2 separate regions of the Homo sapiens genome follow, and region 1 is linked to region 2. The links come from fine-mapping of genetic effects on gene expression. A gene starts in region 2. The other region holds a variant in brackets. All regions are shown on one strand. Distances are between the middles of the regions.

What was found.
Region 1: its variant is fine-mapped to the expression of SNRPG in nucleus accumbens (GTEx, PIP 0.95).

What each region holds. Positions count from the first base shown.
Region 1 is chr2:70,256,451-70,267,601 of GRCh38, reverse strand. PCYOX1 (prenylcysteine oxidase 1) reads right to left here and starts at 9,465. Exons shown (of 6, transcript NM_016297.4): 1 at 9,326-9,465; 2 at 8,036-8,242; 3 at 6,216-6,390. The coding sequence starts at 9,437. RefSeq lists silencers at 9,100-9,209, 9,480-9,609. The variant G/A (reference allele first, on the strand shown) is at 6,264.
Region 2 is chr2:70,289,301-70,300,451 of GRCh38, reverse strand. It overlaps SNRPG (small nuclear ribonucleoprotein polypeptide G), which reads left to right and starts at 6,712. Exons shown (of 4, transcript NM_003096.4): 1 at 6,712-6,834; 2 at 11,080-11,102. The coding sequence starts at 6,803. FAM136A (family with sequence similarity 136 member A) reads left to right here. Exons shown (of 3, transcript NM_001329752.2): 3 at 2,975-4,476. The coding sequence ends at 3,163. It overlaps LOC124906023 (a long non-coding RNA gene), which reads right to left and starts at 6,550. Exons shown (of 2, transcript XR_007086880.1): 1 at 6,520-6,550; 2 at 4,438-5,394. RefSeq lists enhancers at 1-49, 6,551-7,030, 7,047-7,954.

The DNA of each region.
Region 1 (11,151 bases), 33 kb after region 2:
TGGCCGGGCTGGTCTCCAGTTCCTGACCATGAGTGATCTGCCAGCCTCGGCCTCCCGAGGTGCCAGGATTGCAGACGGAGTGTCGCTCACTCAGTGCTCAATGTTGCCCAGGCTGGAGTGCAGTGGCGTGATCTCGGCTCGCTACAACCTCCACCTCCCAGCCGCCTGCCTTGACCTCCCAAAAGTGCTGAGATTGCAGCCTCTGCCCAGCCGCCACCCCGTCTAGGAAGTGAGGAGTGTCTTTGCCTGGCCGCCCATCGTCTGGGATGTGAGGAACTCCTCTGCCCGGCCGCCCAGTCTGGGAAGTGAGGAGCGCCTCTTCCCGGCCGTCATCCCGTCTAGGAAGTGAGGAGCGTCTCTGCCCGGCTGCCCATCGTCTGGGATGTGGGGAGCGCCTCTGCCCCGCCGCCCCGTCTGAGATGTGAAGAGCGCCTCTGCCCGGCCGCGACGCCGTCTGGGAACTGAGGAGTGTCTCTGCCCCGCCGCCATCCCGTCTGGGAGGTGAGGAGCCTCTCTGACCAGCCGCCCTCTCTGAGAAGTGAGGAGCCCCTCCGCCCAGCAGCCGCCCTGTCTGGGAAGTGAGGAGCCCCTCTGCCCAGCCGCCACCCCGTCTGGGAGGTGTACCCAATAGCTCATTGAGAACGGGCCATGATGACGATGGCAGTTTTGTCGAATAGAAGTGGGGGAAATGTGGGGAAAGGAAGGAGAGATCGGATTGTTACTGTGTCTGTGTAGAAAGAGGTGGACATAGGAGACTCCATTTTGTTCTGTAGTAAGAGAAATTCTTCTGCCTTGGAATGCTGTTTATCTATGACCTTACCCCCAACCCCATGCTCTCTGAAACATGTGCTGTGTCCACTAAGGGTTAAATGGATTAAGGGCGGTGCAAGATGTGCTTTGTTAAACAGATGCTTGAAGGCAGCATACTCGTTAAGAGTCATCACCACTCCCTAATCTCAAGTACCCAGGGACACAAACACTGCGGAAGGCGGCAGGGCCCTCTGCCTAGGAAAACCAGAGACCTTTGTTCACATGTTTATCCGCTGACCTTCCCTCCACTATTGTCCTATGACCCTGCCAAATCCCCCTCTCCGAAGAACACCCAAGAATGATTAATAAATACTAACAAAAAAAAAAAAAGTTATAATCTTACGGTTCTGTAAATTAGAAGACCAAAGTCAGTCTCTCCGGGCTAAAATCAAGGTGTGCACAAGGCTGGTTCCTTCTAGAAGCTCTGAGGGAAGACTGTCTTTTCCAGCCTCTACAGGCCACCTGCATTCCTTGGCTCGTGGACGCACACCCCTTCCTAGCATCACTCCAATCTCTTCCTTCCATCATCACATCTCCTACTACCTACCCTGATCCTCCTGCCTCTCTAAGGACCCTTGTGATTATATTGGGCCCACCTAGATAATCCAGAATAATCTACCCATCCTTAACCATATCTGCAACGTCTCTTTTACCTCAAAAGGTAACACATTCACAGGTTCCAGGAATTAAGACATGGACATCTTGTGGCAGACAGCAGGGGAGAGGATTATTCAGCCTATAATAGGAGGCTACTCTAGCAATCCAGACAAGAGACAGTGGTGGTGACTTGGAACAAAGTGGTAGCAGTAATCCTGGAGAGAAGTAGTGGAATACTGGATGTATTTTAAAGGCTGATGGGATTCAAGATAGAGTGGGTTTGGGAAATGAAAGAACAAAAATTGACTCAAAATATTTGGTAGGAGTAACTGGAAGGAAGAAAGGGTGTTTATAAAGCCTTTCCCTGTGAGTCTATCAGTCTCAGATCAAGAAGTGTTAAGGATCTTACAAGTCCCCAGAAATGCACTAACTTGAGAGAGAAGAATAAGCTTTAACCTAGTCTACAAGCCAAGATATCTCAACAGGAAGCCATCAGCAGACCAGAGATTTAAATTCCACAAACATCTGAGTAAACATCTACTACATTCTAGTTACTGTGCGTAGCATAGAACACAAGCACACAGTGTGCACCGTATAATAAGGGATGTTTGAAAAGAAAGATGAATGTTGATTGAAGCATTAAGGAAATGCTTTGCTGAAAAAGTGAGATAAGAGGTTGGACTTGGGAGTAAAGAATGGCATCCGGCTGAGCGCGGTGGCTCACGCCTGTAATCCCAACACTTTGGGAGGCCAAGGTGGGAGGATCACTTGAGCCCAGGAGTTCAAGATCAGCTTGGGCAACATGGCAACACCCTGTCTCTACAAAAATTTAAAAAATTAGCCAAGCATGATGGCACATGCCTATAGTCCCAGCTGAGGCTGGAAGATGACTTGAGACCAGGAGGTCAAAGCTGCAGTGAGCTGTGATTGCACCACCGTACTCCAGCCTGGGTGACGGAGCAAGACTTGGTCTCAAAAAAAAAAAAAAAAAAAAAATTAGTTAAGAATGGCATCCAACCAGAACAACTACATAAATGTATGTGCAGAAGTGGAAATTAAGCTAGCTAGTGCTGATGTCAGGGGCTGCAGGATTTCCACTCAAGTACCTCCAACAGCAGAGAATGAATGAATGCACTGTTTTCGAGTATTGCCTACCACAAGCTTGAGCCCTCTTTCGAGTGTCATGGTTTACTACTGTTACATAGGTCTTTCTCCACCTTGTGTATACTTTGATCTTGGCTCACCACAACCTCCGCTTCCTGGGTTCAAGCGATTCTACTGCCTCAGCCTCCCAAGTAGCTGGCATTAGCTGCGCCTCCACACCCAGCTAATTTTTGTATTTTTAGCAAGGCGGAGTTTCACCATGTTGGCCAGGCTGGTCTCGAACTCCTGACCTCAAGATCTATCTGCCTTGGCCTCCCAAAGTGCTGGGATTACAGGCGTGTGCCACCGCGCCCGGCCCGTAAATTATTTTTTAAAGTCAAAAACAGTATAACCTATGTATCCCCTCACTGGTTCTTTTTCCCAGTTCTGTAATACCTTGAATTCACTTCAAAAGTGATTTCTTAGGCCAGGTGCGGTGGCTCATGCCTGTAATCGCAGCACTTTAGGAGGCCAAGGCGGGCAGATCAATTAAGGCCAGGAGTTTGAGACCAGCCTAGCCAACATGGTAAAACCCCATCTCTACTAAAAATAAAAAAATTATCTGGGTATGGTGGCACATGCCTGTAATCCCAGCTACTCAGGAGGCTGAGGCAGGAGAATCGCTTGGACTCAGGAGGCAGAGGTTGCAGTGAGCCGAGATTGCACCACTGCACTCCAGCCTGGGTGACAGAGTGAAACTCATCTCAAAAAAAAAAAAGTAATTTCTTAATTTCTCAAAGGGCAATTCTCTACATCTCAAGCAAGCCACAGATAAAAAAAAAAACAAGGCTGGGAACAGGAGCTCACAACCGTAATCCCAACACTTTGGGAGGCCCAGGTGAGTGGAACACTCGAGCCCAGGAATTCAAGACCAGCCTGGGCAACATGGCCAAACCTCATCTCTACAAAAAAAATACAAAAAATTAGCCAGATCTGATGGCACGTGCCTGTAGTCCCAGCTACACAGAGGCTAAGGTAGGCAGATCCCCTGAGCCCAGGAGGTCCAGGCTGCAGTGAGCCATGATCACACCACTGCACTCCAGCCTGGGTGACAGAGTGAGACCTGTATCAAAAAAAAAAAAAAAAAAAAGAGGGCCGGGCACAGTGGCTCACGCCTATAATCCCAACACTTTGGGAAGCCGAGACAGGCAGATCACAAGGTCAGGAGTTTGAGACCAGCCTGGCTAACACGGTGAAACCACATCTCTACTAAAAATACAAAAAATTAACCAGGCATGGTGGCATGTGCCTGTAGTCCCAGCTACTCAGGAGGCTGAGGCAGGAGAATCACTTGAACCTGGGAGGCAGATGTTGCAGTAAGCCGAGATCCCGCCACTGCACTCCAGCCTGGGCGACAAAACGAGACTCTATCTCAAAAAAAAAAAAGAAAAGAAAAGAAAAACAATACACACAAGCAGGGCTGATGCCATCAGAACTTGATCTGCCTGCTGAGTATGCAGCACCATGCCACCCACCTTCTATAAAGTGACTGGCCGTCTCTACGCAAATTCTATATATTTCCTTGGTTGTGTATTGCCTGTCTCTCCACTAGAATATATATTCTTTGAGGACAAGGACATGTTGTAGGTCCTATACTCTCAACATAGAACAATGCCTAGCACCTAACAGGTATTCAATATTGGGTGAATGAATGAATGGCTACTTAAAAACATTATGCACTGTAGATGGACTTAAGGTACCCACGGGAAAGGCATTTAAGGAACTGACCTAAGAATGATGTTGAGAAAGAAAGAAACCCCAAACTACCATGAGTTATAGAAACCAGAGCATATCCTGCTTAGCTTTCTTTTTTTTTTTTTTAGACAGTCTGGCTCTGTCCCCCAGGCTAGAGTGTAATGGCACGATCGTGGCTCACTGCAACCTCTGCCTCCCAGGTTCAAGTGATTCTCCTGCCTCAGGCTCACAAGTAGCTGGGATTACAGGCATGCACCACCACGCCGGCTAAATTTTTATATTTTTTGTAGAGACAGGGTTTTACCATGTTGGTCAGGCTGGTCTCAAACTCCTGACCTCAGGTGATCCACCAGCCTCAGCCTCCCAAAATTCTGGGATTAGAGGCATAAGCCACTGTGCCCAGCCCTGCTTAACTCATATTTGTCCTGTTCAATACCTGGTCATATGACATGTTTTGTTTTGTTTTGTTTTTCCCCTCAAGATGGAATCTTGTTCTGTCACCCAGGCTGGAGTGTAATGATGCGATCCTGGCCTCCAGTACCTAAAACTGTAAAGCAGCATAAAAATTAGCATGTGCTAGCCGGGCACAGTGGCTCATGCCTGCAATCCCAACACTTTGGGAGGCTGAGGCAGGCGGATCACGAGGTCAGGAGATCAAGACCATCCTGGCTAACACAGTGAAACCCCGTCTCTACTAAAAATACAAAAAATTAGCCAGGCACAGTGGCAGGCACCTGTAATCCCAGCTATTCGGGAGTCTGAGGCAGGAGAATCGCTTGAACCAGGGAGGCAGAGGTTGCAGTGAGCCGAGATGGTGCCACTGCACTCCAGCCCGGGCGACAGAGCAAAACTCCATCTCAAAAAAAAAAAAAAAAAAAATTAGCACATGCCGGCCAAGCTCGGTAGCTCACACCTGTAATCCCAGCACTTTGGGAGGCCGAGGCAGGTGGATCACCTGAGGTCAGGAGTTCGAGACCAGCCTGGCCAAGAGGGTGAAACCCCATCTCTACTAAAAATACAAAAATTAGCTGGGCGTGGTGGCAGGCATCTGTAATCCCAGCTACTCGGGAGCCTGAGGCAGGAGTATCGCTTGAACCCAAGAGGCAGAGGTTGCAGTGAGCCAATATCGAACCATTGCACTCCAGCCTAGGCAACAAGCGAAACTCCATCTCAAAAACAAAAAAACAAAAAAACTAAAAAACTAGAACATGCCAACAGCTTTAAAAATACAGATTGTACCTTTCAAAATTAGACTGGCTATTTTATGTTAGTCTTCCTGATTACCAAAGTGATACATATTCACACGCATTAAAAAAACTGTTTAAATATAGAAAAGCATAAGGACGAAAAAGAGGCACCTGAATTCTCACTACCCAAAACAGTGCTAGAATGTAAATTCTTGGAATATGGAACTTTTACTCTACTTCAGGCTGCTGGTTCACTGAAAACATGTCACTATTAAAGGCCATTTAAGTTTTCTGATCCTTTCTACAAGCTCTTGTACACATTATCTCAATTCATATACACAACACCAGCACAGCATAGAGATTAAGAGTGAAGACTCAAAGGCCAGACTGCCTGGGTGGCAACTCCAGCTATACCACTTACTATGTGGGTGAACTTGCCTTTTAAAACCTCTCTACACCGCCACCTTCTGCATCTGTTTAAAGAAGCTAAAAACAGTACCTACCAGAGTAAGTTGTCATAAGAATTCAAGGCATCTAACAGTATCTGGCAACACTAAAGAAGCATTTGCAAAATACACTTCAGAAGCAAAAATAAACCAACCTTTCAATATCCAAGCAAATAGTCTGCATAGTTTCTACAAAACATTTTGCCTAACAATGTTATAAACAGGCCTTGCTGTGAGGTAGAAAATGCTTACAAGAAATCATAATTCCTAAAGTTCATCAAGTTTAATTTAACCTAAATTAAAAGATCTTAGGTTAAATGGAAGGAAAAAAAATTACCTCATGAACTTGTCTAACACGTCCTCTACCCACATGTGCATACGGAGG[G/A]ATTGAAATCCATAGCGCCAAACTAATTTAATCACGTTAATTATGAACCAGTTGCTCTCCTCAAATACCAGAGTCTCTCCATTATATATCCCCAGTAGGCCACCAGAGGCCTGAACAGCAGAGAGACCTGCAAAAACATAAAGCACAGCTAAGTCAGTGGTGTCTATGCTGATCAAATGAAAGAACGTAATCTGAGTGAATTTGGGGCTTCCCTCAGTTCTCAGGAGACACATAAAGGAGCTCTATCTTTGGAACAGTGTGAAACACTATACTTTCACTACACTGTCCAAAAGCAGATTTGCTAGGCGATGGGTCAGATGATCATGTAAATATTAATATATCAAAAGTAGATATATTTTTACCTGGCTATTTTTAGACTAAAAGTCTAAAAAAACTGGATAGTCAAAGGAAAAAAGCCAGAGTACCAACTGAATTCAATTTAAAAACAAAGATGTCAGACATGCATCTTCGTGGCATAATTTGTTCTGGGTATACCTTCGCCCTCGTGGAGGAAACGGAAGCAGAGGCAGCATCTACAGAGGATGTGGAAGGCAGCTGAGGCACTTCCATTCCTGTGAGAATCCTATTTTGCAAAACTGGATATTTCAGATAACTGGAAGGAGGCCAAAGTTACAAAATACTCCCTGCCGAAAGGGCCTCCAGAGGCCTGTCAGACTTTCCCCATGACCTATCCAGCTCCTCTGCTGTCAGGGCAGCAGTTGCACATCCCAAGTTCTAGGCACGTGTCTGCATCCACAGCTGTGTGACGGAGTTTGTTTTGTTGGTGGTGGTTTGTTTTGATAGGGTCTCACTTTGTTGCCCAGGCTGGAGTGCAGTGGCATGCAAGGCTCACTGCAGCTTCTATCTCCCAGGCTCAAGGGATCCTCCTGCCTCTGCCTCCCAAGAAGCTGGGACTACAGGTTTGTGCCATCACACCAGGCTAACTTTTTTATTTTTAGTAAAGACAGGATCTCACTATGTTGCCCAGACTGGTTTCTAACTCCTGGGCTCAAGTGATCCTCTGCCTCGGCCTCCCAAAGTGCTGGGATTACAGGCATGAGCCACTGACCCTGGCCATGGCCATATGTGAGTGACTTTGAGCCAGACAATTCAAGTCTCTGGGTCTCATTTACTCAGCTGCAAAATGATCACAATGAGATGACTATCTCCAAACCTTCTCTGATTCTTTAACACAAACCCAGAATTTTAAGAACAGACAACAGAGGCCGGGCACGGTGGCTCACCCCTGTAATCCCAGCACTTTGGAAGGCCAAGGCAGGCGGATCACCTGAGGTCAGGAGTTCAAGACCAGCTGGCCAACATGGTGAAACCCCGTCACTACTGAAAATACAAAAATTAGCTGGGCGTGGTGGCAGGCACCTGTAATCCCAGCTACTCAGGAGGCTAAGGCAGGAGAATCGCTTGAACCCGGGAGGCAGAGGTTGCAGTGAGCCAAGATCGCACCATTGCACTCCAGCCTGAGCGACAAGAGCGAAACTCCTCAAAAGAAAAAAAAAGACAATGGCAGCCATTCCCACCCCCACCCCATGGCTGTAATTCCAGATAACTGAAGATACAGACAACTAGTGTCCCATTACAGCAGAACTGCTCCTAACTCAGGCAGTACCAACTAACAAGAAAGTGAGGAAAACAGTTTTACCAACGTCTCTGTAAGGCAATTAACAAGGCAGAAATTTCAGTTCTCCATCTGATAAAAATATCCGGGGATGTCACACAGTAATCTGGTGAGCTCCAAGACCAAAATTACATACCCAGGTCTTTGACAAAACGTTTCATGTGCAGATTTAAAGGATGGATGACAGAACCTCCTGCCTCGTATTCTTGCCCCTGCACCATCATGGTAGCCAGGCGGCCCCCGACCTCTTCTCTTTCAAACAGGTCTATCTTCACATCTTTCCCAAATTTCTGCCGCAGGTAATAGGCTGCTGAAGTGCCACCAATTCCGGCTCCAATAATCGCTATGAGGGAAAAAAACAGAAGATTATATTTTCCCCTTTTACCAGCTCTGTGAGTTGTTTTGTTTTTGAAAGACCATCAATAGCAGAGGTTGTTACTCAAAGCTATTACCAACAATTTGGTGGGGGAAGAGTGACACCTGCAGCGAAGGTCTAACTCCCTGAATCTGGACAGACACTGTTCCCAGACAAAAGCAGTAGATTAATTAACATATTGACATTAACTCGATTTTTTTTCCAGATGCCCAAAGATTCTCACAGGTCTTTATGGAGGAACCAAGGGGCCTGCACACCCTTCCAGATGCCCAACTCACGGGCACATTAGAGGTGGACCTTTCCAGCACGCATTTTTAATAAAGTGACGGCCATTTATGCCTAGCTTTGTTGTGTCTAGATTCAATGTAGATAGGTTAATGATACCGAAGAACACAACTTTAAAGGGGGGCGGGAGGGAGACAGGAAGCAAAGAGCCAAGGCTCCTGACACTGGAGCTCTTGACAGTGGAAAGAGAACAGATTCTTTCTGCAGCTGTGTTAGTCCTAGGCGGAGAAACTGTGCAAGCCAAGGGCCTCTGAGAGCAGGCCGACCTCAGCAAAGCGGAGCTGGGGGAAGGCGGTTCAGCCTCCCAAGGGAAGCAGGCAGGGTCAACTTGTTTGCACTCCTCCCTGTGCTGTGCCTGCGTGAGCCTGTTAATCTGGCCGGGCGCCCCAGGTCAAGCCAGAACACTGGAGTCTTCACGGTCAGTGTTCAACGGGAAGATAGAGAAACCTAGGCCTCCCCGGAGCCCCACACCTAAGAGACAGGGGCTACAGGTACGCTAGGCGCCTGCCTGCCCGCCCGCCCCTGTCCCCGTCCACGCCCATTCCTCAAGTGGGCACCTCTCCACGCCTGGGAATGCACAGTCCTATTCCGACCAGAGCTGAAAGCCGCCCTGAAGTGTGAATGGGGGAAAGCGCGACCTGCGCAGCTGGCTCGGCCTGCACCGCTGGACTGCGTCGCGGCTGTGGGATCTGGGCGCACTGCGCAGCGGCCGCCCGGCGCGGGGCGCGCTCCAGCACCTTCCCGCGCCGCCCCCTTCTCGCCTACCGATTTTATCTGGCGGAGCACGCAGCTCGGCGCCCTCGGGGCATCCGCAGCTGCACAGCAACAGCCACAACCCCAGCAGCGAGGAGACGAGCTCCGCGACGACGCGCCCCATGGCCTCCACAAGCTCTGCAGCTGGCCTCAAGAGCCCCGCAGTCCTCCCACCGCTGCGCGGCTGCGCGCTCCGCCCAGCCCCGCCCCCAGGCCGCCCAGCCCCTGCGAGCCCCGCCCAGGTCCTGCGAGCCCCGCCCCGACCTCGCCCCGCCGGTCCTCTCAACCCTGCAGGAGCTCCCCACTCTGGGCCACTCAGTGCCCTAAGCACATCCTGCCGCCTCGAAGCCCACCCTCCTTCAGAAGACATCGAAGGCAGAAGCTGGCCGGGCGCGGTGGCTCAAGCCTGTAATCCCAGCACTTTGGGAGGCCGAGGTGGGTGGATCATGAGGTCAGGAGATCGAGACCATCCTGGCTAACACGGTGAAACCCCGTCTCTACTAAAAATACAAAAATTTAGCTCGGCATAGTGGCGGGCGCCTGTAGTCCCAGCTACTCGGGAGGCTGAGGCAGGAGAATGGCGTGAACCCGGGAGGCGGAGCTTGCAGTGAGCCGAGATTGCGCCACTGCACTCCAGCCTGGGAGACAGAGCCAGACTCCGTCTCAAAAAAAAAAAAAAAAAAAAAAAGGCAGAAGCTGAGGCTCGCCTCAGCTCTCCTCCTCCTTCCCTATCTATTTGGGTGAAGCACCTTAGTTCTTCACTAGTACCCTCTTCTGTTCCCTCCGTCGCTCCTCTCAAAGAATGCGCACAGCTAATCGCTGCCAGAAACAGACCAAAGGGACAACAGTACTTACTGAGTGATCACCCTGTTGCGAGAACTGTAAGGTTCTCCGTGAATGGGTAAATGGTGCTAACTGTAAAGAAAAATGAGGGAGACTGAGGATGGGGTGGCCCAAGGTGAAGGGGGTGTAATAGTAGTAACAGACATGAATAAAAGTAGTGTACCTGTAAGGACACCAGAATGTGCCACCCCAAAATACGCCTCTTTAGCCTAAGGATTATTTCAAGCCGAAGACAATTGAGAAGATGTAGATACGATGTAGATACGTGGGTGGAAAGTTCTCCGCCTTCCCCATTTGCCTAAAAGCAGGACATAAATTTTATTTTTTTAACAATTTTTAAATATATTGCATTTTATTACATAAAAGTAAAATTAGTAAAATAATATAATTTGATATACTTTATAATTTATAATTTCTCTCAGTATAATGTAGAAAAGTATTACTCTGAACACTTACTTTTTTTTTTTTTTTTTGAGACGGAGTCTCGCTCTGTTGCCCAGTCTGGAGTGCAGTGGTGCGATCTCAGCTCACTGCAAACTCTACGTCCCGGGTTCAAGCAATTCTTCTGCCTCAGCCTGTAGCTGGGACTACAGGCACCCGCCACCGTGCCTGGCTAATTTTGTGTATTTTTAGTAGAGACGAGGTTTCAGTGTGTCAGCCAGGATGGTCTCGATCTCCTGACCTCATGATCCACCCGCCTCGGCCTCACAAAGTGCTGGGATTACAGGTGTGAGCCACCGCGCCTGGCCATGAACACCTACCTTAAACATTACTTAATTTAGGCTAACTACAATGAGCCTCGCTACTTATATTTTTATCATGCATCTTACATTTTAATGTCCTTACTCTTTTATAGAAAAGGTCATAAAGAATGCCCAACTAATAAAGAATCTCTAATATCTCTGATACAGCAACAACTGATCACATACTTTCACATGTGAATACAATAGAAATAAAGTAACAGCATAAAGTAATTTGAAAGCTGTATTATATTA
Region 2 (11,151 bases):
GGGAGGCTGAGGCAGGGGAATCTCTTGAACCCAGGAGGTGTAGTTGCAGTGAGCCAAGATCGCGCCACTGCACTTCAGCCTGGCAACAGAGCGAGACTCTGTCTCAAAAAAAAAGAAATGATGTAATGGGGAGTTACCAGGGGAGTTCATGACCAAGAGCCCTTATGCAGTTTGTTGGGGAGGAGGCGTTTGTTTGTTCCTTTTGACATAACCACCAAATACAGAATGTATACTGTGTAGTATAAAGTTTCCTGGCTGGACGCGTAGCTCGCGCCTGTAATCCCAACATTTTGGGAGGCCGAGGCGGGTGGATCACGAGGTCAGGAGTTTGAGACCGTCCTGGCCAACATGGTGAAACCCCATCTCTACTAAAAATACAGAAATTATCTGGGCATGGTGGCAGGTGCCTGTAATCCCAGCTACTCGGGAGGCTGAGGCAGGAGAATCGCTTGAAACTGGAAGGCGCAGGTTGCAGTGAGCCAAGATCGCATGCCATTGCGCTCCAGCCTGGACAACAAGAGCGAAACTCCGTCTCAAAAAAAAATAAATAATGTTCAGGCACGGTGGCTCACACCTGTAATCCCAGCACTTTGGGAGGCCGAGGCAGGCAGATCACGAGGTCAGGAGATCCAGACCATCCTGGCTAACACAGTGAAACCCCGTCTCTACTAAAAATACAAAAAATTGGCCAGGTGTGGTGGTGGGCGCCTGTAGTCCCAGCTACTCGGGAAGCTGAGGCAGGAGAATGGCGTGAATCCGGGAGGCAGAGCTTGCAGTGAGCCAAGATCACGTCACTGCACTCCAGCCTGGGTGACAGAGCGAGACTCCGTCTCAAAAAATAAATAAAATAAAAATAAAAAAATAAAGTTTCCTAAAACATATATTATTTTTAAAACAGCAGAATCTCTAGAAAGGTAGGATAGCCTTGAAAAGGTACAGATTCGAGGAACACCCTTCCACCATTTTGTGGACTTATACACCCACCCAGGACTGCCCCTAGTTGCTATACCCAGAGGGCAGCCCCTCTGTCACTAAGGAGCAGTCATTTATGTGAATCATTATTACTGTTGACTCACTGATTCCTGGCTCACAAGCCCCTCTGAGGTTACCAAAAGAGCTCCCTGTTTCCCTCTCTGGAGCAAAGAGTATCCACAACTTCATTTTACTCCCATCTTCTAAGTATATTTTTCTGGAACCTGGGGGAAGCAAGCCTACTTCCAAGCCAGCCTTTCATAGCCTGAGGTTCCATCCACATGGAAACTTATACATAATGTGACACATCTTTACATTCTTCCATTCAAAACGCTTCAAAGTTACTGCCATTATGAAGGAATAACTTCTTCAAGATCATGGAACCCCAAAGGGTTTCTTTGTGTTCTTTTTGACAGCTAATTTTATAGATGGGGTCTTTGAAAATGTGATTCTTGGATTGCTCTATAACTTCCCTTGCATTATCTTTTTAGTCCTCTCCAAGTGGACTTTCACTCTTCACTGGGCCAGAACCACTCCTGCCACTCACCCCCATGGGGCCGAATCCGGGGGTCATTTCTCAGTCTTCATCTTACTCTGTCTGCATCATTGACACAGTGGATCCCTCTCCTTCTTAAAGCACTTTATTCAGTTGGTCACCAGGACATCTCACTCTCCTGGTTTTCTGCCTCCTTCCTTGGCCTCCTTTGCTCTCTCTTCCCCACTCCAGCCTCTGAGCATCAGAGTGCCTGGGGCTGTCCTTGTTTCTTTTCTCCTTTCTGCCTACTTCTCTAGTCTCCTCTAGCCTCATAGCTGTAAATATAATCTCTATGCTGACAGCTCCTGCATTTATATCTGTAGGCCAGAGCTCACTGATAAACTCCACATTCACATATCCAACTAATTCCTCCACATCTCCATTTACTTTGTTTGTCTCTTTCCTCTCACTGGAATGTAAGTTCTGTAAGGGTAAGAACTTTGTTTTACTCATTGCTATATTCCCTAACATTAAAAGAGTGCCTGGCACATAGTAGATGCTCAATAAATATTTGTTGAATTGAATGTTTTCCTGTAGAAAGAACAGACTTTAAAGAATCAGTGGCTCACACCTATAATCCCAGCACTTTGGGAGGCTGACGCGGGTGGATCACCTGAGGTTGGGAGTTTGAGACCAGCCTGACCAACATGGAGAAACCCCGTCTCTACTAAAAATACAAAAAAAGTTAGCCAGGCATGGTGGCGCATGCCTGTAATCCTAGCTACTCAGGAGGCTGAGGCAGGAGAATCACTTGAACCCGGGAGGTGGAGGTTGTGGTGAGCCGAGATTGTGCCATTGCACTCCAGCTTAGGCAACAAGAGCGAAACTCCGTCTCAAAAAAAAAAAAAGAATCAAGATGTTTGTACATCTTACAATAACCTCTAGGGACCTCTCATTTCCTGGAAGAATGTTCTGCCCAATTTATTCTGTCATTCACCTGCTTTCTAGTAATAGTTTGAGCCCTCCTGGTGCCATCTTCTGTTTGAGTCAAGACAGTCTTGGAAAGCCAAACACAGTGGCTCACACCTCTAATCCCAACACTTTGGGAAGCCAAGGAGGGAGGATCACTTGAGCCCAGGAGTTCAAGACCAGCCTGGGCAACATAGGGAGATCCCATCTCTACAAAAATAATTTTTAAGAAAGTATTAGCCAAGAGTGGTGGCGTGTGCCTGTGGTCCTAGCTACTTGAGAGCAGAGGTGGAAAGATAGCGTGAGCCTGGGACGTTGAGGCTGCAGTAAGCCATAATTGTGCCACTGCAGCGCAGCGCTCCAGCCTGGGCAACAGAGTGAGACTCTGCTCAAAAAAAAAAAAAAAAAAAAAAACTTGGCCAATCACACTACCATGTCCCTTTAATTGACCAAGATAATACATATTAAACCTGTAGCACAGGGCCTAACACATAATGAGCACGCAGTAAATGGAGGCCTTACTCTCAGCTTTTTCTACGTTCTTCCTTCTTGCCACAGGACCGCCTGGCCCGGTGCACCATGCATTGCAACGACAAAGCCAAAGATTCAATAGATGCTGGGAGTAAGGAGCTTCAGGTGAAGCAGCAGCTGGACAGTTGTGTGACCAAGTGTGTGGATGACCACATGCACCTCATCCCAACTATGACCAAGAAGATGAAGGAGGCTCTCTTATCAATTGGAAAATAAAAGTATTTGCCAGTGGCCATCAGGGCTGAGGGCAAGAATATATTTTTTATAAGGAATTGGGAATTTTAGTCTTTTAAGCAAAGTTTACGAATGAAGAAATGAAGGATGGCCACAAGCGTAAGGCATATGTCACTTGCCTCTGGACACTGGTTATTTTATGTTTCAGTCCCTAAAAAATGAAATGGAAAAAAGTGGTGCTAAATCGAGTCAGAGATATTACAGGAGAGTTTTAGAGCTTATTATTTCCTGTGGCCAGTGCTTGTCCTGGCAGTAAGGCTTTCCCCTGTAACAAGCCAGAGCCCTCCAAGGTACCAGACTCTTCTTACTACACAGGTACTAACAGGCTGGCAGGTTAGAGTTGGTGGAGTCTGAGGAGAGATATTTTCTCTTTGTTGCCAACATCCTGTTTACCAAAAGTGTCACCCCACCATCTTCCATAAGCTGTGAAACAAAATCAATGAGGTCACTAACTTAGAAGGGAAAGAAAGTTTTCTGGGTCTTTGTTTTCTTGATTTGGGGTAATTTATACAAGGGCATACAAGTTGATTTTAAGATGTGGAACTGGGAGGTAGACTAGTTTGGATAAGAACTTTGAAATGTTCCTTGTGGATCCCCATTTCTGGTCATCAAGATGTGGATGTACATTTCTTAAAATTATTACATGCTGCATCTTTCAGCCTGGAGACTGTGCAGAAACATGAGAGGTGATGACACACTAATTATGGGAAGCAGAATTACTGGCTGATGGCCCCTGAGGCTGTGTGTAACAAAATGACAGGACAATCTTGCAGTAACACTTTCCCCTTGAAGAGAAGGGGGTTTTGATTGTGATATATACTAGTATCTAGGAATGAACAGTAAAAGAGGAGCAGTTGGCTACTTGATTACAACAGAGTAAATGAAGTACTGGATTTGGGAAAACCTGGTTTTATTAGAACATATGGAATGAAAGCCTACACCTAGCATTGCCTACTTAGCCCCCTGAATTAACAGAGCCCAATTGAGACAAACCCCTGGCAACAGGAAATTCAAGGGAGAAAAAGTAAGCAACTTGGGCTAGGATGAGCTGACTCCCTTAGAGCAAAGGAGAGACAGCCCCCATTACCAAATACCATTTTTGCCTGGGGCTTGTGCAGCTGGCAGTGTTCCTGCCCCAGCATGGCACCTTATTGTTTTGATAGCAACTTCGTTGAATTTTCACCAACTTATTACTTGAAATTATAATATAGCCTGTCCGTTTGCTGTTTCCAGGCTGTGATATATTTTCCTAGTGGTTTGACTTTAAAAATAAATAAGGTTTAATTTTCTCCCCACTATTGAGTCTTCTTTCCTTATATCTGGGTGGTGAATATGTAACTTTCTCAGGATGCTTCTCCTTTTAACAGGTTAAATGAGTTAAAATGTCCAGAAGAGTGGAAATTAGTTGTTATGGTTCAGATGCAGAACTGGTTCACTGTAAATGGGAAAAACTTTGAGAGGAGACTAGGACATTGTGACTTGAAGTTCATTAATGTAGAAAAGAAACTGTCTATGAGGCTAAAAAGAGAAATTCATTATCTATGTCAGGTCTCTAGCTTCAACTAAACACTAATAGCAAGTGGTAGTAAAGGTACAAAGCTATGACCCTGCTAGAAAAAATTCAGTGTCTAGGATTTTGAGTACTAAGAGAGTGCAAAATATGTGATGAGTTTAAGTCTTTACTATCATTGATATTTATATAGAGCCATTCCAGAATATCAGGAATTAACTGAATTTTTGAGAACTATCCCCTATTTAAACACAAGGTATTCTATTTTGGTTTAGTCTTCTATAATTTTGGGGTAACAACTGGGAACAAGTCCGAGACCACTTTTTACACATCTTGACATGAAAAAAGAACACCTTATATTAGAAAATGTTTGTGTGCTGCACTTCACATTTTATATACAGGGGCAATAGCACATCAGTGAGTTCTGGAGGTAGTGTTTGAAAAATTTCAGAATTCCCAGGCATGCTGGCTAACCCCTGTAATCTCAGCACTTTGGGAGCCGGAGGCAGGCAGATCTCTTGAGGCCAGGAATTTGAGAACAGCCTGGGCAACAAAGCAAGACCTCGTCTCTACAAAAAAAAATTAGCTGGGTGCAGTGGCGTGCGCCTGTAGTCTCAACAACTCAGGAGGCTGAGGTGGAAGGATTGCTTGAGGCCAGGAGTTCGAGGTTGCAGTGAGCCATGATCACACCATGCTCCCCAGCCTAGGCGACAGAGCAAGAACTCATCTCAAAAAAAATTTTTTTTGCAAGACCCCTCAGTCAGAAATAGATTCAAATTCTTGGAGACAGACCCAGTCACCTTACTCTACAATGGTTCAGAGGCTGCTAATTTACATGTTACGGGAACCCTACTTGGTCTGACAGTATGCTGTAGGGTTACCTGCCAAAAAAATATAGAGGCCCAGCCGGGAGCGGGGGCTCACGCCTGTAATCCCAGCACTTTGGGAGGCCGAGGCCAGCGGATCACGAGGTCAGGAGATCAAGACCATCCTGGCTAACACAGTGAAATACGGTGTCTACTAAAAATACAAAAAATCAGCCCGGCGTGGTGGCGGGCACCTGTTGTCCCAGCTACTCGGGAGGCTGAGGCAGGAGAATGGCGTGAACCCGGGAGGCAGAGCTTGCAGTGAGCCGAGATCGCGCCACTGCACTCCAGCCTGGGCGACAGAGCAAGACTCCGTCTCAAAAAAATATACATATATAGAGAGAGGCCCATTCCTCCAGGGATCATTATCATTTGGTATATTGGTATATATGAAGAAAATAAGCGATACGATCCACAGACATGCGGGATTGGCCGGGTTTGCCCAGGAGCTAGAGACGGGACCGTTATCTCAATATCTCAATTTTATTTTTTAAATAGAGAAGGGGTCTCGCTATGTTGCACAGGCTGGTCTCGAACTCCTGGGCTCAAGAGATCCAAAGTTCTGGGATTTACGGCGCCCGGCTTTTTTTATTTATTTATTTATTTTTATTTATTTTGGCTGTTCCATAGACAAGAGCAGGGATAACCGGCTGGGCGCGGTAGCTCACGCCTGTAATCCTAGCACTTTGGGAGGCCGAGGCGGGCGGATAACGAGGTCAGGAGATCGAGACCATCCTGGCTAACACGGCGAAACCCCGTCTCTACTAAAAAATACACAAAATTAGCCGGGCATGGTGGCGGGCGCCTGTAGTCCCAGCTATTCGGGTGGCTGAGGCAGGAGAATGGCGTGAGGCCGGGAGGCGGAGCTTGCAGTGAGCCGAGATCGCGCCACTGCACTCCAGCCTGGGCGACAGAGCTAGACTCCGTCTCAAAAAGAAAAGAAAAAGAGCAGGGATACCCACCGGTGGAATACCCGTTATCTCAATTTTGTACAAGGAAAACGGAATTCAGAAAGGTGCCTAGAGGACGCACCCCTCCGTCCTGGCCAATCGCTGAGGACATAACCGGAAGCTCAACGATGACCGAGGCGCTGAGATATCGCGAGGTGAAATGTAAAAACTGCCAACAATCCATTGGCTAACGAGGTCGATGACGCCAGACGCAAGACGCCGGGCCTACAGCGGGAGCGTGAGGAAAGCCGTGCGTTGCGTTCCAAGGCATCTGTGAGCCCGCGGAGTATACACCATGAGCAAAGCTCACCCTCCCGAGTTGAAAAAGTAAGTATGTGTGAGAGCCAAACCGAAGTGGTCAGTTATTTGCGTCCTGCGAGTCCCTTGGTTCCCTCTCCGTTAGCCGAATGTCTTGAGCCGCTTCACTTCATTTCTTCTTCCGGTCCGAGGTCGCCGGGATCCCGGCCAGGCTCCCGCGCATGAGACGTGAAGCCCGCGCAGAGCTCGCGCGTCGGTGTGGTTACAGCCGGCAGCCACGGCACCTCCTTCCGGCCGACTAGTCTCCAGGTCCCGCGGTCTGGCCCCTGGTCACCCGGCGCTGTCCCTCGTTCCTTGAAGATCTCCAGTGCTACCTTTTGTTGAACATCTCGAATAGTATCATGTTCTAGATAGACGGCTAGAGGGGGAAATTCTCTGAAGGAACTAAGGAGGGGCTGGAAGGGAAGGAAGTGTTTTTAAAACTACGTGAGGCATCAGAATCCGAAAGCCACTTTAGTCTTAGCAAATGTGTTTGTAGGTGTTTGAGCTTTTACTTAGAAACCTCATTCCTTTTTCTTGCCTTCTTTTACGTTAAGCTTGAATGTCATGTGTTATCTTGCTCTGATGTTGAAACTATATAAGAACATTCATTTTTCTTTTTTTTTAAGAACATTAATTTTTTCTAGTCAGAGAAGGCTAATTTTTTGAAGTTTTTTCTACACACCCAGTAAAGTCAAACAACTTTAAGTAGGAGAGCCTTACTTTAGGTAGGACTCAACGTAAAGCTTTGAATTCCTCAAATACTTTTTGAGTGGACTTAACAGGTTATGTGTTTCCTGACTACGTTTCTGTTTTGCTTATACTTCCTGATGCTGGAATTCTACATGTATTAGTTGGATTGCACAAAGGATGCAAAATTTTTACAGGGATCAGTTTTTTCTGGCGTAGCATGTGGTTGGCTTTGTGTATAGTTAGTTCATTTATTACCAGGCCCATGGAAGTCAGACAAAAGGTAAAGTTCCTATTTAATAATTTTGCGGCCGGGCACAGTGGCTCACGCCTGTAATCCCAGCACTTTGGGAGGCTGAGGCGGGAGGATCACCTGAGGTCAGGAGTTCGAGACCAGCCTGGCCAACATGGTGAAACCCCCGTCTCTACTAAAAATACAAAAAATTAGCCAGGCAGGTGGTGTGCGCCTGTAGTCTCAGCTATTCCGGAGGTTGAGGCAGGAGAATCGCTTGAACCCGGGAAGCGGAGGTTGCAGTGAGTCAAGATCGCGCCATTGCCCTCCAGCCTGGGTAACAAGACCGAAACTCTGTTTCAAAAAATAATAATATTTTTGCATTTAAAGGTCCATTTGTATCAAAGCCATCTTTTGTATGAAAACTACTTCTATGTATATTTTAGTTAGGTCTGTTAAGGAATTAATTATTAAAACATAAGCCCAACGCGGTGGCTCACGCCTGTAATCCCAGCACTTTGGGAGGCCGAGGCGGGCGGATCACGAGGTCAGGAGATGGAGATCATCATGGCTAAAACGGTGAAACCCCGTGTCTATAAAAATACAAAAAATTACGTGGGCTTGGTGGCGGGCGCTTGTAGTCCCAGCTACTCGGGAGGCTGAGGCAGGAGAATGGCGTGAACCCGGGAGGCGGAGCTTGCAGTGAGCCGAGATCGCGCCACTGCACTCCAGCCTGGGCAACAGAGCGAGACTCCGTCTCAAAAAAAAAAAAAAAAATAGAAGTTACTCAGAAATTATTGTGAAAATTACTCTTTTTATCTGAAAGTTATTTTTGGTGATGTAAGTATCCTCTGGATTCATCAGGGACTGGTGAAATGGTGATTTTTTTTTTTTTAACAAAAAGACCATTCTCTACTTGTAATCTAAGATTTTCTTTCTGATTCATAACATAGTTTTTGAAAATTTCAGAGAAGGAAGCTAGTTTTAATACCTTTCTCTTCCTCGTAGGTTTCATGAATTGTGAAATCCGGTCAGATCTGCCGCCAAAATGACTTAAAAATTTTTTCTTCCTCTGCTTTCTCACAGATAGCATCTTCTTTTACACCATTATGCCCTCCTTCTGGTGTAGCATAACTCAGGTGTTCTTAAATGGGGAGTAGGGAATCTGGTGCTACCGGCTTCTAGTGAGTAGACACCAGGGTGCTGCTAAACATCCTACTGCTTATTCGACTGCCCCCAACAATACAAAATTAACTGGTCCCAAATGTCAGTAGTATAGAAGTTGAGATACACTGGCTTAACTGAATTCTTCCTTCCACTTCTTAAAATTTGCTGCCACGGTAGTCTTGCCAGTGACTGCTTTAATAATTTATCACAGTATGCAAAATCGAGTCTGTACTTAACCCAGCATTCAAGCACCAAACCTTCTAGCTGCTAATACTCAGGTATTCCGTTCTCCAGTCACACTGAACTATTTGTGTTTGCTCTCACTTGCTGTGTGACTTTGAAAAATTGCTTTAGCTTTTCCAAGCCTAGTTCTCCATCTGTAAAAACGGTGGAAATGATAGACCATAATTGCAAAGTCGTTGTAAAGATTGTATAAGATCTTGTGTGTTATATTTGATACGTTTTATGTATCTTATTAAAATATAGTTTACTTCATATATGTGTGTGTGTGTGTGTGTGTGTGTGTGTGTGTGTGTGTGTGTGTTTTGAGATGGAGTTTCACTCTTATTGCCCAGGCTGGAGTGCAGTGGCGCGATCTTGGCTCACCGCAACCTGTGCCTCCCGGGTTCAAGCGATTCTCCTGCCTCAGCCTCCCGAGTAGCTGGGATTACAAGCATGCACCAACACACCCGACTAATTTTTTTTTTTTTTTTTTTTTTTTTTTTTTTTTTTTTTAGTAGAGACGGGTTTTCTCCATGTTGATCAGGCTGGTCTCGAACTCCCGACCTCAGGTGATCCGCCCGCCTTGGCCTCCCAAAGTGCTGGGATTACAAGCATGAGCCACCGCGCCCAGCCCATAAATATATTTTTACTTGTAAATGTATCTACTCCCTCCTTCAGTCATGCTCCTTGTTTTATATTTACATTTTCCCATGATAATCCTATACATTAAAATTGAATAAGTGCCCCACTTCGTGGCCCATATACTAAACATCTTTTTTTCATTTTTTTATATTTTAAAATTTGAATGAAATTTTTAAAATTGAATGAAATTTTATGTTTTCTGGCCTATATGGAAGAAATTAAAAACTGATTTGACTGCATGGCTTAATCTCGTATTCCACTAAAATGGAATTTTTTTTTAATTCATATCGTTTGAAGTTTCAAATGTGCATTTATTATTCTAAAATATACTTAAATGTTGAGGACTACCCTGAACATTTATGCTTGATGCTTTAATATTAAATAAAAGAACACTACTTATTTCAAATATAAAATACCTATTGAATTGGATATGATTTGATTACTGTTTGCTGTCTTTACAACTTAGTTTTGGAAATAACCAAACATAGGCAAGTCTTTGTTTTTCTCTTGTGACTATAAAATCCAGTCATTGAAAATTAGGTCAATGAGACCAGATGTGGTAGCTCATGCCTGTGTAATCCCAGCGGCACTTTGGGAGGCTGAGGGGGAGTATATTTTTCGAGGCCAGGAATTCAGGACCAGCCTGGGCAACATAATGAGACTCCCATCTCTTAAAAAAAAAAAAAAAAAGAAAGAAATTTAGGTCAATGAAACAACGTAGTATTGAACAATAAGAATGTAATTCACATTAGTATACTCTACTTAATGTAAATTAATATAGTCTAAATATGTTTCATTTTTATTGCCTTTCCTCTTCCCAAATTACTTTGCTTCCTAGAATGTCTAATTTAGGTAACCCTTTACGCCCCCACTCTTTTTTTCCCCTGAGACAGTTTCGCTCTATTGCCCAAGCTGGAGTGCAGTGGCGCAATCATGGCTCACTGCAGCCTCAACGTGGCAGGCTCCAGTGATTCTCCGACCTCAGCCTCCCAAGTAGCTGGAACCATAGGCATGTGCCACCACCCCCAGCTAATTTTTGTATTTTTGGTAGAGATGGGGTTTCACCATGTTGCCCAGGCTGGTCTCAACTCCTGAGCTCAAGCAGTCCACCCGCCTCAGCCCCCTAAAGTGCTGGGATTACAGGCGTGAGCTACCTCGCCCTACTCCCTCACTCTTTACAGCAATACATTATTTTTACTATTTTAGATTTCATTATTCCCATTGTATAAATTTTAGCAAATTATCTTAACTATACCTATTTACTTGTTTATGCTTAAATTTTTTTAATTGGTTATATAATCTTTACCCTTTTCCTTTTTCAGATTTATGGACAAGAAGTTATCATGTAAGTTTGTTGTTGTTTTGGGGTTTTTTTTAATTATTTAATTGCTTTT